Linked DNA regions of Homo sapiens: region 1 is linked to region 2. Evidence: fine-mapped expression QTL. A gene starts in region 2. The other region holds a variant in brackets. All regions are shown on one strand. Distances are from middle to middle.

The links. PIP is the estimated chance that this variant, and not a neighbour inherited with it, causes the effect.
Region 1: its variant is fine-mapped to the expression of ATM in whole blood (TOPMed, PIP above 0.99).

The regions. Positions count from the first base shown.
Region 1 is chr11:108,244,075-108,252,074 of GRCh38, forward strand. It overlaps ATM (ATM serine/threonine kinase), which reads left to right. Exons shown (of 63, transcript NM_000051.4): 6 at 1-44; 7 at 714-952; 8 at 2,890-3,053; 9 at 4,859-5,028; 10 at 6,627-6,998; 11 at 7,763-7,957. Among named protein-coding and RNA genes, the nearest start is that of ATM, 25 kb to the left of the region's middle. The variant T/G (reference allele first, on the strand shown) is at 4,853.
Region 2 is chr11:108,220,038-108,228,037 of GRCh38, forward strand. ATM (ATM serine/threonine kinase) reads left to right here and starts at 3,030. Exons shown (of 63, transcript NM_000051.4): 1 at 3,030-3,149; 2 at 7,558-7,659; 3 at 7,739-7,851. The coding sequence starts at 7,588. NPAT (nuclear protein, coactivator of histone transcription) reads right to left here and starts at 2,601. Exons shown (of 18, transcript NM_002519.3): 1 at 2,463-2,601. The coding sequence starts at 2,499. RefSeq lists enhancers at 2,497-2,556, 2,967-3,126, 3,437-3,516, 3,867-3,916, 5,413-5,532.

The sequences.
Region 1 (8,000 bases), 24 kb after region 2:
TCCAAATTTTTGGACTTTTTTTCCAAGGCTATTCAGTGTGCGAGGTAATCTAATCTCTTTTTCTTTTGTTTTGTATTGAAATACTTTTGATCTTGCAAGACCATGTTTTAGACTCAGTAACTAAAAATTCTACCTTAAAATAAAACATTGATCCATCATAACAGAACTAGTGGATTCCTAAAGAGACAACCAAGTCCAACACTTTCTGAATATCCAATATGCAGAACACTACGTGAAGTTTTCAAGGGGGAGATGTGTCTTGCTGATGTTCTGTTGACCAGGAAAGTTAAATATCCTCTAAGTCATTGCATTTCCCCCATTTTGAGGATGGTTTTAATATACCGAGAATAAAATAAAATAGGAAAATATTTTGGAAGTATTACTGTTGTACATTAGTATGGCAGTACTCAATGTATAATGTGAAACATTTTATAAATGGTGTTACAAATCAGTTTTGTTTATTTTTATACAATGTTTTAGCAGGAGGGAGAGCTAACAGAAGTGGTCTCTTAACACCAAATAAGAACTAATTTTTTGTCAGTGTGAAGTAATGCTGTGATTTTTTTTTTTAATGAATAGTTTTGAAATTAAGACTACTGTTTGAAAATTAGGGTTTTGTTTTTTTTTCTTTCAGCATACCACTTCATAACTGTTCAGTTTGTACAGTTTGTTCCCCCTGTTATACCCAGTTGAGCTTGTTTGTTTCTTCACAGACAAGAAAAGAGCTCTTCAGGTCTAAATCATATCTTAGCAGCTCTTACTATCTTCCTCAAGACTTTGGCTGTCAACTTTCGAATTCGAGTGTGTGAATTAGGAGATGAAATTCTTCCCACTTTGCTTTATATTTGGACTCAACATAGGCTTAATGATTCTTTAAAAGAAGTCATTATTGAATTATTTCAACTGCAAATTTATATCCATCATCCGAAAGGAGCCAAAACCCAAGAAAAAGGTATAAAGGAAATGTTTACTGTTTTGAATTTGCTTCTTCATTCAAACATAGAAGTCTAAGTATAAAATTAGTGTTCTTTAGGAGGATATGACTTTCCTCTGGATTTCTCTGGTTGATAATGTTACTTAGCCATGAGAATGTTTTTCATAGAGTTTTTAGAATTTGAAGCAGTGGTAGCAGATTCTGTTATGCCTTTCTATTTGTTCAATACAATATTAGGTATTATGGGAAATACAAAAAAATCTGAGACATTGTTCCCTCTAGGAGCTACTTATGCATCAATACTTAGATACTAAGGGGTCTGACACAGACTGTAGGGCAAAAGAATTTAAAGAAAGCAGGATCTTGTTTATCCACCTATTACTTTTATTAGAAGATAAAATACGTAAATTGGACTAAAACCAGTCAGATTATTCAGCTCCTGAGGAAGATACATACATATTACTTTAATAGGAATTTGAGGCAGAAACAGGGAAATTGCTGCCTTAAGCCTCATAGTTACTCTAGGGCCCTGTTTGCCCTAGAGTATCACTTGTTAAGGAGAATCACTTATTCTCCTTAATTCCTTCATATATGTCCTATACCAAGAGAGTATTGCCCAGAAGGTATAGTGCTTTTCTGTAGTTAGGAACTTTATTGGCTGGAACTGGAGTTTCCTCTTGCTCTGTCTATGATTGCCTTTGGGCTTATACTAGCCTTTGGACCAACTCATCATGGCTAGTATAGTGACTTTCTTAAAACAGCATACCACATTGAGTAATAGCAGCTATAATGGAGGAAATGTCTTGTAGCCACTTTTTTTTTTTTTTTTTTTTTGAGACAGAGTCTCACTCTGTCGCCCAGGCTGAAGTGCAGTGACGCAATGTTAGCTCACTGCAACCTCCGCCTCCTGGGTTCAAGCAATTCTCCTGCCTCAGCGTTCTGATTAGCTGGGATTACAGATGCCTGGCACCATGCCCAGCTAATTTTTGTATTTTAATAGGGATGGGGTCTCACCATGTTGGCCAAGCTGGCCTTGAGCTCCTGACCTCAAACCATCCACCCGCCTCAGCCTCCCAAAGTGCTGAGATTACAGGCATGAGCCACTGTGCCCGGCCGTGTAGCCACTTTTTATCAAAAGTAGCTGTGTATTTGTTTTATGGGCTCTTCTAATAAGTATATCTAGATAATATGTAGCCCATGAAACTACTATAAGTGAAAGAATAGTGACTTTTAATAGTTTTTCATCTTTTACTCACCTCTTATCTCCAGGATGAAGATCAGGCTTATTAGGAGGTGATATGATATGTTTAGGGATTTAGTTAACTGCATATTTAGGGTGAATTTAAAATTGGCAGGATGATGAGGATGCCAGAAAAGCTAATGTAGTTTCAGACTACTTTAATAGATTTTGTAGTACCTTGTTTGTGAGAAATAATAGACCTTTTGTTTCGCATACTAGTCAAGCCACAGTTGGATTACCATGTTCACCAGATTTTGTATAGTCAGCATTTTAAGTTGACTGGAATGTGTCTTGGGAAAGATGACTGAAATGGTGAGAAGTCTGAATAATATGTCATTTTTACACTAGTTGAAGGAACTCGTAATATTTTTCTCTTAGGCCAGAAAAAGGCATACGGAGAACTTGGTCCTCATATGAAAGAGGGAACATATTAATTGTATTTGCCTCAGGTGGGAGAATAAATTGGAGAAAGACAGATTTTAGGTCAGAATATGGAAGAAATTTATAAGAAACACAGTTATCTAAATGTAAAATGGACAGTTATGAAATAGAGTTTGTCAAGGATCTTGTCAGAAGAGGCATTAGTACTGAATGGAAGGTTGGACCAGGTGTCTTCTAACGCTGATGCAGCTTGACAGCTGAATAATTTTGTGGGAGCTAGCAGTGTAAACAGAGTACATACATAAAAATTACATTTTAATTTTTTGGATTACAGGTGCTTATGAATCAACAAAATGGAGAAGTATTTTATACAACTTATATGATCTGCTAGTGAATGAGATAAGTCATATAGGAAGTAGAGGAAAGTATTCTTCAGGATTTCGTAATATTGCCGTCAAAGAAAATTTGATTGAATTGATGGCAGATATCTGTCACCAGGTACAGTAAGTAGGTCATGTCACATTTAGAAATTTCCTGTTAATTTTTTTTTTAAACTGGGCATTTTGGGCTTTTAAAACCTGTGTTCTCACAAAAAGCCTATAAAATGACTCTGTACATGCAACTATTCCTTTCAAACTATCAGAAATATTTGGAATTACCCTTTTAACTTAAAAGTTAATGCTTTTGCAGATATTTGAAAACTAACAATGAACTTTTTCATTCTTAAATGATTGTCTCTAGGAAATAAGGTGACCCTAACCCTAATGATTCGATTCGACTCGACTGTATTCTACAAAGTGCTGGGATTACAGGCATGAGCCACCAAGCCCAGTCTGTTTCTTTTTTGCAATTAAGCTAGAGTTCACATAGCATAAAATTCACGATTTTGAGTTGTACATTTCAGTGGTTTTTAGTATTTTTACTATGTTGTACAACCATCATCACTAATTCTGGAAACTTTTTTTATTTTATTTTTATTTTTTTGAGATGGAGTCTTGCTCTGTCACCCAGGCTGGAGTGCAGTGGCACAATCTCCGCTCACTGCAACCTCCCTTTCCCGGGTTCAAGTGATTCTCCTGCATCAGCCTCCCGAGTAGCTGGGACTACAGGTGCCTGCCACCACGCCCAGCTAATTTTTGTTTTTTTAGTAGAGACTGGGTTTCACCATATTGGCCAGCCTAGTCTCAGACTCCTGACCTTGTGATCCTCCTGCATCGGCCTCCCATAGTGCTGGGATTACAGGCGTGAGCCACCGTGCCCAGCCCAGAACTTTTTTATCATCCCAAAAGAAACCTCATCCCTTCTTAGCATTCAGTCCCAATTCCCTGCATCTCCTAGATCCTGGCAACCAGCCACTAATCAATCTTGGTTTTTGTGGATTTTCCTGTTTGGGACAGTTCGTTTAAATGGAATCATACAATATGTGAGTCTTTTGTGTCTGGTTTCTTTCACTAAGCATAATGTTTTCAAAGTTCATGTTTTACCATGAATCAGTACTTCATTCATTTTTATTGCTGAATAATATTCAGTTGTATGGATATACTCCATTTTACTTACCCATCCATCACCTGATGGCCTAATGTTTCTTAAATAAAACTCTGTTCCCCAGAGATTTGGTTAACATCCTGAGTAGTAATTTCACTCTGTCAAATATTTTCTTAATATTTCTTAAAATTTCTTAAATTTAAAAACTTGAATCCCTTTGAAAGTAAAGGTTTTTGCTTTACTTTTAGATTTCTTAGTGCTTTTAGTAAATGTTCCCAGGAAATAAAACTAATGCATTACTTGGTAATACCTGCTTTCTAAAGTGCCATTACTGTCATGCAAAATGTTTGTTTCTTACTATGTTATCAGATTTATATGTTTCTGTAATGTATTACTCTTGCTTTATGAGTTCCCTGTATCTTCATTTCAGAAAGAATTTTTTTTCCCCCTAATGAAATATTAGAAGACAATAGCAATGAAAAAAGTGTATTTGGCCAGGCGTGGTGGCTCACACCTGTAATCCCAGCACTTTGGGAGGCCAAGGCGGGCAGATCACCTGAGGTTGGGAGTTCAAGACCAGTCTGACCAACATGGAGAAACTCTGTCCCTACTAAAAATACAAAGTTAGCTGGGCATGGTGGTGCAAGCCTGTAATCCCAGCTACTCGGGAGGCTGAGGCAGGAGAATCACTTGAACCTGGGAGGTAGAGGTTGTGGTGATACGAGATCGTGCTGTTCCACTCCAACCTGGGCAACAACAGCGAAACTCTGGCTCAAAAAAAAAAAAAAGAAAAAAGTGGATTTATTTTTATT[T/G]TACAGGTTTTTAATGAAGATACCAGATCCTTGGAGATTTCTCAATCTTACACTACTACACAAAGAGAATCTAGTGATTACAGTGTCCCTTGCAAAAGGAAGAAAATAGAACTAGGCTGGGAAGTAATAAAAGATCACCTTCAGAAGTCACAGAATGATTTTGATCTTGTGCCTTGGTAAAGTGTTACCATTTTCTCATTCAGTGTCATTTTAATCTCTTGTATGTTATTTTTCAGAAAACTTTCAGTGGAATCCTTTCATCTCAACCAGAACTAAGTCATTTGTCTACCCCCAAACCTATTACTAGCAAAGGGATATGTGATTGCCATGACAAATGAGATCAATCATTAATGGCTCATTTGCTTGGGCCAAGTGCAGGGCCACCTATTTTAATCATATTGTCATAGCAAGTTAAGAAGGAGGACTGGCTCTCTGATAGGCAATTAGAAGTGTGCACCTCATGGAATTCACTGAATTGTACGCTTCAACAATAGATTTTAGCATACGTAGCACCTTCTAATAGAATTAGGAAGAAGTTAAAGATAATCTTAAGAAATCACAGAATAATTTTGACCTTATGCCATGATAAAAAGTTATTTTCTCTTATTTTCTATCTTCTTTATTCTCATGTAACGTTCACATATATTTAAGTAATCAAATAAATTATGGATACTTTGGAATCCCAAAATATTAGATCTGGTAAGGATGTTTAGAATTTATCTAGTTCAGCCTGTTTGCTTTACTGAAAAGAAACTGAAACCCAGAGAGGTTAAGCAACTTCTGTAGGGACAGAGATTTATAGATTATAGTCAAACTCGTGATCAGTGCTCTTTTGATTACCATGTTGATGGAATGTTTAAGTGTAAGTGACTTCTGGGGAAAAGCATATTGATTTAGATACCTATTGCTTAAGCTCATTTTTATATAGTTAAGAGTAGCTATTTAAGATTCTTAATTTGTCCTTTTAGTCAAGAGTAATTTATTGAACACCTGTTATGGGCTAAGCGTTAGATATACAGAGATGAATAACATAAGACTCCTATTCTTAAGTATCACACATTCTAGAGAATACACAGCAAATGTTTATTGGATTAACTGAATTAATGTAAAGGAAAAACAGTTTTTTGGGTTTCTTTGTTTTCCTGTTTTAGAGGAATCGTTTGGTGACTAAAGAGCAAGGATGTACAAGATAACTCAGAAATAAAATATTGCTAAATATATATATATATATATATATATTTTCTGAGACGGAGGCTCACTCTGTCACCCAGGCTGGAGTGCAGTGGCACAATCTTGGCTCACTACAACCTCCACCTCCCAGGTTCAAGCAGTTATCCTGCCTCAGCGTCCTGAGTAGCTGGGATTCCAGGCATGTGCCACCATGCCCGGCTAATTTTTGTATTTTTAGTAGAGACTGGGTTTCACCATGTTGGCCAGGCTGGTCTCAAACTCCTAACCTCGTGATCTGCCTGCCTTGGCCTCCCAAAGTGCTGGGAAACCACCTGGCCCAAATATTGCTAATTTAATATCCTTTAAAATATTTGTTTAAGGGAAACTTAACAGCTTACCCAGCTAGCCAAACGTTGACAATTTTCCTGCCAATTTAGGAAGTAGGACATAGTAACTATTAACAGCCAGTTTATTTTTAGAGTACTATGGAAATGATGGTGATTCTCTAATTAGGATATTGTAAGAGTACCATGTCTATATATTTCCTTTTAGTTTGTTAATGTGATGGAATAGTTTTCAAATTATCCTTTTTTTTTTTTTTTAGGCTACAGATTGCAACCCAATTAATATCAAAGTATCCTGCAAGTTTACCTAACTGTGAGCTGTCTCCATTACTGATGATACTATCTCAGCTTCTACCCCAACAGCGACATGGGGAACGTACACCATATGTGTTACGATGCCTTACGGAAGTTGCATTGTGTCAAGACAAGAGGTCAAACCTAGAAAGCTCACAAAAGTCAGATTTATTAAAACTCTGGAATAAAATTTGGTGTATTACCTTTCGTGGTATAAGTTCTGAGCAAATACAAGCTGAAAACTTTGGCTTACTTGGAGCCATAATTCAGGGTAGTTTAGTTGAGGTTGACAGAGAATTCTGGAAGTTATTTACTGGGTCAGCCTGCAGACCTTCATGGTAAGTTCAGCATGCATTATGTCTGACTTACAGATAAACACACACAGACACACACACACTCACATATCCCTGATCATTTTCATAGTTTGTTACTTCAGTTAAAGATGTCAAATTCTATTTCAGATGCTTTTCTTGTTTGGCCGAGAAGACTTAATAAATGCATAAGTGAATTTAGTTTCAAATGTTGACAAATTATTAAAGACTAATGTTAAGGAATTTCTTTTTTAGTTAAAAAATTTTTAATTGATCTATAATAGAGTTATATATTATCAAGGTACATGTGATAATTTGACACACTCATATGACACACTCATGTAGGGTGATGGGATATCAGCACCCTACGTATCTTTTCTTCATGCTAGGAACGTTTGAATTATTCTCTTCTTGCTGTTTGGAAATGTACAATAGATTAATGTTAACCGTAGTCACCCTACTGATGTATCGGACACCAGGTCTTATTCCTTCTAATTGTATACGTGTATCCAAAAGACTTTCTTTAAAGAATTATGAAGAGTTTAAATTTCTTTTATGTGCAATTTATCATTATTTATTAAATAGCCATGTTTAAATTGTAGTACTATGCACTGTTAATAAACGAGCTATTTTTTAATCAAGAATCTTCCCAAATGTAATCAGACTTTTAACAGTTTTTATGTTCATTTAGTCACCTTAACTAAATGTATGTGCCAGGCACTGTCCTGATAGATAAAGTCTTTGCCCCTCCAATAGCTTGCTTTTCACAATTGTCCTTTGTTTTGTTATAGTCCTGCAGTATGCTGTTTGACTTTGGCACTGACCACCAGTATAGTTCCAGGAACGGTAAAAATGGGAATAGAGCAAAATATGTGTGAAGTAAATAGAAGCTTTTCTTTAAAGGAATCAATAATGAAATGGCTCTTATTCTATCAGTTAGAGGGTGACTTAGAAAATAGCACAGAAGTGCCTCCAATTCTTCACAGGTAATTTAAGTTCATTAGCATGCTGCTGTTTTTTTTGTTTGTT
Region 2 (8,000 bases):
CATGTCTGCAGCATAAAACAGATGTTAGGAAGTTGAGATCAAGTTGGAGAGGTAGGTAGGATCAGTTCCACAGAGCACCTTGAATAAATAGATAAAAACTGAACTGATGGCCCAGAGGCAACAAACACTTTGATGTATTCTGGCCCACACAACATTTTGTAAAATCCCAGCAAGGCAATAAGGGCTACTTAAGTGGAGTAGTGAGATGCAAAAGTCAGAGTGCAGTATCCTGAAGGATAAAAGGTAGGTGAAGAACAGCAACTAAGTGGAATTCATTGTTCTTTGAATAAATTTGACTTGTGAAAGGGTGACACAGAACATAAGACAGAATGTTCTGTTTAATGGGTGTCTAATGTCTAGTGGGGTCCAGAAAAGTGTTTTTTTGTGTGTATGTTTAAGAATTTAAAAAAAACCTAATTATCTGAACACTAAGGGGAGAAAACTTAACTTCTCTATGTTCAGCAATTGGCACAGTGTTTGGAACATACTAGGCACCCAAAGATTTGCTAGAAAAAAAACATTATGAAGGGACCAATAACAAGAGGAGCTGAAGATGGCGAGGGGGTACTGATAGGAAAAGAATCATGAGTAAATAATAAACCTCATATGAGAAAGATATACACGATATGTATCTATTTAAGATGTAAAATGATAAACGACAAAAGTAAGAGCATTAGGCATGGGGAGGCTTTTTTGTATTGTATACTCCTGCCCATCTGAAATTTTTAGTAAGAATAGAATTATCTCAACTTTCAGACTAAAAGGTATAGTGTGAAAGCTTCAGGGAGATTTGTAACAACAGTAAATAAAATGAATTGCGAGGACAACTGTCTGGGAAGCCATGACAGAAGTCCAAAAGAGAAGTAATGGCAGGCACATTGCGGGATTGGTGGCAGTGAAAATGGAATGTGAATGACAAAGATTTTTAAGATAAGAAAACCATGGCTGGCGTTTTTTGTCCATTAAATGAAAAGCAGGAAGTCAGCAGAGTAGCTGGTTTGTGGAGAAAGAATACTCACACATCGATGTGAATTATTTCAATTAGAAAATGATACTGCTTTCTTAGGGCTTTCTTAACTAGGGGTGATTCTGCCCTCCAGGGGACATACTAGCAATATCTAGAGACATTTTCACTGATCACAACTGGGTAAGGGTAGGGTGGGGAACGGGTGTCCTACTGTAATCTAGTGAATAGAAGCCAGGAATGCTGCTAAACATCCTACAATGTTTGAGCACAGGATAGCTCCCCACAATAAAGAATTATGAGGCCCAAAATGTTAACAGTACTGAGGCTGAGAAACCATGTTTAAGACTATAGTTACCGAAACTCAACTAGATTACCAAACTGCCAAAACTCAGAATTCTTAAGCAAAAGATTAATCAGACATTAACAAAACATTAAACTTGTCATTAAGTTTCTTCAAAAATGGATGGTGGAACCATTTCCGTTTAACGTTTCCTGCAAAATGTGCTTATCAAGAGCCCTGCGCAAATAACATTTTTGTGGACAGCGCTGGGCATTTAAAAGAGGCACAAGACAAATGGGTTTTCCGAACAATAAAATAATAGTAGTAATGGCTGTGAATACTATGGGAGGTTTCATCACAGATGCTTGCCATTTACTTTTAGGGACGTCGCATACGACGTCCGTAAATTACTGGCTCGGGTTTTGAGCTTTACCTGGCTCTCGTCCCCTGTAGTACAATCCTCTTTATTCTTTCAGGGGACAAACAACAACAAAACCCGTCTCTCACACAGACAATACACCCTGACAGACAAGTGACCCACAAACAATCCCTCCTCAAATGAAGGTAAAACTAGGGCTAGAAAACGTTCAACTAATTTAAGGCAATTAACCCTCTGAAATTTTTCGCTGATCAAAGGAACAGGAATTGCTGTTTTAAAATATGCAACTGGCATTTCACACCTCTACACTGGACGACGTATTGCGTGGAGGATGGAGAAGGAAGATCACCCCTACTCCCAAATTCGTAGTTATAAGGGCGGGTTATTAGAAGGGCGCCAGGAAGGTCTCTCTACAAAGATGGGGGGCCGGGGAACTCCCTATTTGCCCTATTTTGGTCCCAACACTGAACCAAGGAAATTGCGCCCAAGGTTGAAGCACACGCAATCCGTCCGTCATGCAGACAAATGCTCTTTCAGGGGTCCTAATTAAGTGTGGAGGCCTGACTTTCCTTCCGAATCCGCCCCAGGTGTTCCACCCCGAGCTTCCCCTCGGGCTTCCCCTCGCCACGCAGCCTCTGAAGAGAGGAGCATCTACATACAAAGAGGCTTAAACTGCCCAGAACCTCCGAATGACGAAGAATCACCGCCAGTCTCAACTCGTAAGCTGGGAGGCAAAACCCCAAAGCTTCCCTACCAAGGGAAAACCTTTGGCCTCAAAGGTCCTTCTGTCCAGCATAGCCGGGTCCAATAACCCTCCATCCCGCGTCCGCGCTTACCCAATACAAGCCGGGCTACGTCCGAGGGTAACAACATGATCAAAACCACAGCAGGAACCACAATAAGGAACAAGACTCAGGTTAAAGCAAACACAGCGACAGCTCCTGCGCCGCATCTCCTGGTTCCAGTGGCGGCACTGAACTCGCGGCAATTTGTCCCGCCTCTTTCGCTTCACGGCAGCCAATCGCTTCCGCCAGAGAAAGAAAGGCGCCGAAATGAAACCCGCCTCCGTTCGCCTTCGGAACTGTCGTCACTTCCGTCCTCAGACTTGGAGGGGCGGGGATGAGGAGGGCGGGGAGGACGACGAGGGCGAAGAGGGTGGGTGAGAGCCCCGGAGCCCGAGCCGAAGGGCGAGCCGCAAACGCTAAGTCGCTGGCCATTGGTGGACATGGCGCAGGCGCGTTTGCTCCGACGGGCCGAATGTTTTGGGGCAGTGTTTTGAGCGCGGAGACCGCGTGATACTGGATGCGCATGGGCATACCGTGCTCTGCGGCTGCTTGGCGTTGCTTCTTCCTCCAGAAGTGGGCGCTGGGCAGTCACGCAGGGTTTGAACCGGAAGCGGGAGTAGGTAGCTGCGTGGCTAACGGAGAAAAGAAGCCGTGGCCGCGGGAGGAGGCGAGAGGAGTCGGGATCTGCGCTGCAGCCACCGCCGCGGTTGATACTACTTTGACCTTCCGAGTGCAGTGGTAGGGGCGCGGAGGCAACGCAGCGGCTTCTGCGCTGGGAAATTCAGTCGTGTGCGACCCAGTCTGTCCTCTCCCCAGACCGCCAATCTCATGCACCCCTCCAGAGTGGCCCTTGACTCCTCCCTCTCCTCACTCCATCTTTCCTGGCCTCTCTCCGGGTGCTTAGCGGACTTGGCCAATAACCTCCTCCTTTTAAACGCCCTGAATTGAACCCTGCCTCCTGCGCATCCTCTTTTTGTGTCACCTTAGGGTTCAGATTTAACTACGCGACTTGACTAGTCATCTTTTGATCTCTCTCTCGTATTTAGTACTTTTAGTCAGCGAGCATTTATTGATATTTCAACTTCAGCCTCGCGGTTAAGAGCTTGGGCTCTGGAATCATACGGCTGGAATTGGAATTCTGTCAGTCGTGTGGCCGCTCTCTACTGTCTTGTGAAGATAAGTGAGATAATCTTGACCTGTGGTGAGCACTCGTGAGCGTTAGCTGCTGTATTTACCAGGTACAGATAAGACAACTACAGTGGATGATAATGTATGTGGTGATAGGGGAGTACTCTGATGGTAGAGGAGTGACTTTGGTTCTCTGCAAACTCAGCCTGAGACTATCAATTCAGTTTGTGGTGAGACCTCGCAGTGTTACCTTGGCAGATGGTAGAAGCCTTCCAGATGGAAGGAAAAATGCGTGTAAAGGCACAAAGTGTAGAAGGACCCTGAAGCTCCAGCGTGAGGCCTGGCATTGAATGAAATATATTTTGTGGGTTTTCAGCTGCTGAAGTCATAGGAATGGATGAGACCAAGAAAACAAAGCTGTTTTTGAGGTATGAGCGGAAGAAGAGATATCAGGAGACTTTCGAAACAGTCATAACGGAAGTTAATATGATCATTGCTAACATTTGCTGTGTTTCAGGCACTGTAAGCATGTATATGGGTCCTTAAAGGGACTCATAGAGGTAGGTACTAGTATTGTTTTTCCTTTTATCATTGAGAAACTGAGGTTTGAAGAGATTAGTGAACTTGCTCTAGATTATACAGTTTGTAAGTGGCTGAACCAGGATTTGAACTAATACAATCTGACTACAGAGGCCACACTCCTTAGCACTAGAAAAGAATGGCATGCCAAGGGCAGAGTTATTTCTAGGAAGATGGGATATAAGCGTCATTGTCAAGTTGTGCAAAGGGGTCAACTTGGTTGAGATCTAAAAAGGAACACTGAATTCGTCAATTCAGAGGCTCGTAGGAAGTAGGAAATCCTTATCTTTTCGTTTGAACCTTGAGTGGAACCTAGATATTCTGGATTAATGTATAAATGAAGTTCATCTTTATATGGTGACACTCATACTCTAGTTGACTACCTAATAGTTCCTCTGCCTTCTTTCAGTTCCGCCAACATACTGTGTTCTTTAACATTGTAGAACCCTTTGGCTATGCTAGTCTCCTTCCCTGAAGTGTTGGTCCTCTAGCCCTTTTTTTGATTGGCACCAGTTAGTTCAGATCTTGGCTTTATTATAAACTCCTCTGAGATATATGTTCCCTGACAGTTTATCTAAAATGATTCTCTCTACAGTTATTTTCTATTACTGTGTTTTTGTTTCCTCAGAGGCATACATCACAATTTGGAATTATGCATTGGTTTATCAATTTACTTGTTTATTGTCACCCTGCTGCCCAGATATGACTTCATGAGGGTAGGATTTGTATCTGTTTAGTTCATTATTTGTCTAGCTATAAGTAGTAAATATTGTTTGCATCTATCAGTGAATGAGCATCTTCTGTTTATGTAGATAATACTGAACTGTTTTGTTTTCTTCAAAGTAATCATTAAGCTGAAGGTAAGAAAAACAAGTTCAAGGAAGTCACACCATGGGGAAAAAAAAGTCAAGTTTAGGGCTGCCTCTTCCGGGAAGTGTCAAATCTTTAGTATATTTAGGAATAAAGGTGCCAAACCTTATGGTTCTTTGGATATTGCTAAGGTATTTTCATTGGTTAGATTACCAGTTTCATTTTCCTTATTGACTCAAGAGGGCTTTAAACTGAGATTGAAGAAGTAAGAAGATTCCTAGATAAAACCATAAGGAATGGAAAAACAAAAATGATAATACTTGTCCACAGGAAGTATATAATCAAATGAAAAGAACTCAAATAACAATCTGTAATCTATAGCAGAGTAAAGCGGAAGTTGTAATAGTGTTGGGGGATGGGGGAAGTCAGAAGAACCACCAGTGAATATAAAAGGAGAAGAGAATCAGAGCCATCTGCTAATAAAATGGGTAGTCAGCTCTTTTTGTTTTTTTTGTCTTGTTTTGTTTTGAGACAGTCTCGCTCTGTCGCCCATGCTGGAGTGCAATTGCGTGATCTCAGCTAACTGCACTTTCCGCCTCCTGGGTTCAAGTGAGTCTCCTACCTCAGTCTCCCCAGTAGCTAGGATTGCAGGCACATGCTACCACACCTGGTTAATTTTTGTATTTTTAGTAGAGACGGGGTTTCACGATGTTGGCCAGGCTGGCTGGTCTCGAACTCCTGACCTCGTGGAACGCCCACCTCGGCCTCCCAGAGTGCTGGGATTACAGGCATGAGCCACCACGCCTAGCCCCGGTAGTCAGCTCTTACTGAGAATATTCAAAGACAGGGCATTCATTTTGTAAGAGACATTCCTTCCTTCATAGGAAGATTGGACCTGGTCTTTTAGTTCCTCCCAATTTTGAGATTCTGTGAGATTGAATCGGGGCAGAGAAACATACTTAATCTTGAAAGATTAAGTAGAATTTAGATGGATGGATAGGAGAAGGACTTTCCCTACCTTTTTACTTCTTGAGATATAGTTATTTGTAGGTATAATATACATAAATATATGTATTTTTTCTCTGTTTACAGACATTCATAGTTTAATAAAAAACTTCTTTGTATTATATAAAGGTTTAGATCAGAACTAGTAAAACAGAATGCTGTTTCTTTTTTTTTCTTTTCTATTTTACTTTAGGTTCTGTGGGTAGATGTGCGGGTTTGTTACATGGGTAAATTGCATGTTGCTGAGGCTTGGTGTACGAATGATCCTGTCACTCAGGTAGTGAGCATAGTACCTGATAGGTAGCCCTTCAAGCCATACCTCCCTTTCTTTCCAACCCTCAAACAGTCCCCAGTCTCTGTTCTTCCCATCTTTGTGTCCATGTTGAAATGCTGTTCTTACTACATTTTTTTGAAGGACATCAAAAGAGAGTTTGATTATATCAGAAGCCCCCAAAAGAAGAGAGCTACTCAGTGGAATCAAGGCATAGTAAAATATAGTTGATCCTTGATATTTGCAAAGGATACCACCATAGCATAGAATTTGCTTCATTTCCTTTTAAAACAGAAATGTCATTTTACTCCTATTGTTATGTGTTAAATAAGAACCTTAATACCAGTTGAGATGGAAGTGGTAGACAAAGCTTACTAGCTCTGATAACCTCCTACTTATCAGCTCCAAAGCATGTTTTAAGCCTTTGGCTCAGCAAAATGACATGTCTCTCCATATAAGCAAGAGTGCTTTTTTTTTTTTCTTTGAGACGGAGTCTTGCTCTGTCACCAGGCTGGAGTGCAGTGGCGCGATCTCCGCTCACTGCAACCTCTGCCTCCTGGGTTCAAGCGATTCTCCTACCTCAGCCTCCTGAGTAGCTGGGACTACAAGAGCACACTACCACGCCTGGCCAAGAGTGCTTTTAAATAGTTCATTGTCAATGTTAAATCCTTGAGTGCTCATTTCCTTATTTACCTGGCTGTTTTCTATTCATCTTTCATGTCTCAATTTAAATGTCATGTTTCTTTGGTCTCAGAGTAATAAAAAGTAAATATACTTCCCCCATCTCCCGCCCCGCAGAGCCTTCCTCTGTTGCCCAGGCTGGAGTACAGTGGCTCGATCTTGGCTCACTGAAAGCTCTGCCTCCCAGATTCAAGCGATTCTCCTGCCTCAGCCTCCTGAGTAGCTGGGATTACAGGCGCGCGCCACCAAGCCCGGCTAATTTTTGTATTTTTAGTAGAGACAGGGTTTCACCATGTTGGTCAGGCTGGTCGAACTCCTGACCTTGTGATCCTCCCACCTTGGCCTCCCAAAGTGCTGGGATTACAGGCGTGAGCCACTGCGTCCAGTGTAAATTATACTTTTATTTTAATCCTGCTACTACTGCAAGCAAGGCAAACATTTTTGTGTTACAGCATTACTTGTATAGATTTTAAGAAAATCTCATTTTAAATACGGAAATGTTAAGAAAAATTATTGTGCCTTTGACCAGAATGTGCCTCTAATTGTACAGTTAAATCTAACTATAAATACTGCAGTATAAAATAATTATATACACATTTTTTCACACCTCTTTCTCTCTATATATGCATATATACATATACATATATATACCTATATGTATTTTTTTTACAGACAGTGATGTGTGTTCTGAAATTGTGAACCATGAGTCTAGTACTTAATGATCTGCTTATCTGCTGCCGTCAACTAGAACATGATAGAGCTACAGAACGAAAGGTAGTAAATTACTTAAATTCAATTTTTCCTTGAAATAAGTGTGATTAGTAACCCATTATTATTTCCTTTTTATTTTCAGAAAGAAGTTGAGAAATTTAAGCGCCTGATTCGAGATCCTGAAACAATTAAACATCTAGATCGGCATTCAGATTCCAAACAAGGAAAATATTTGAATTGGGATGCTGTTTTTAGGTATTCTATTCAAATTTATTTTACTGTCTTTATTTTTCTCTTTCATATTTATTTCTGTTGTGATATTACTTTTGTGTGTAAGTCTTAACATTTATCTTTGCTTCCTATATATCATTATGCCTTGCATATGAATTTGGCATTTAATATTT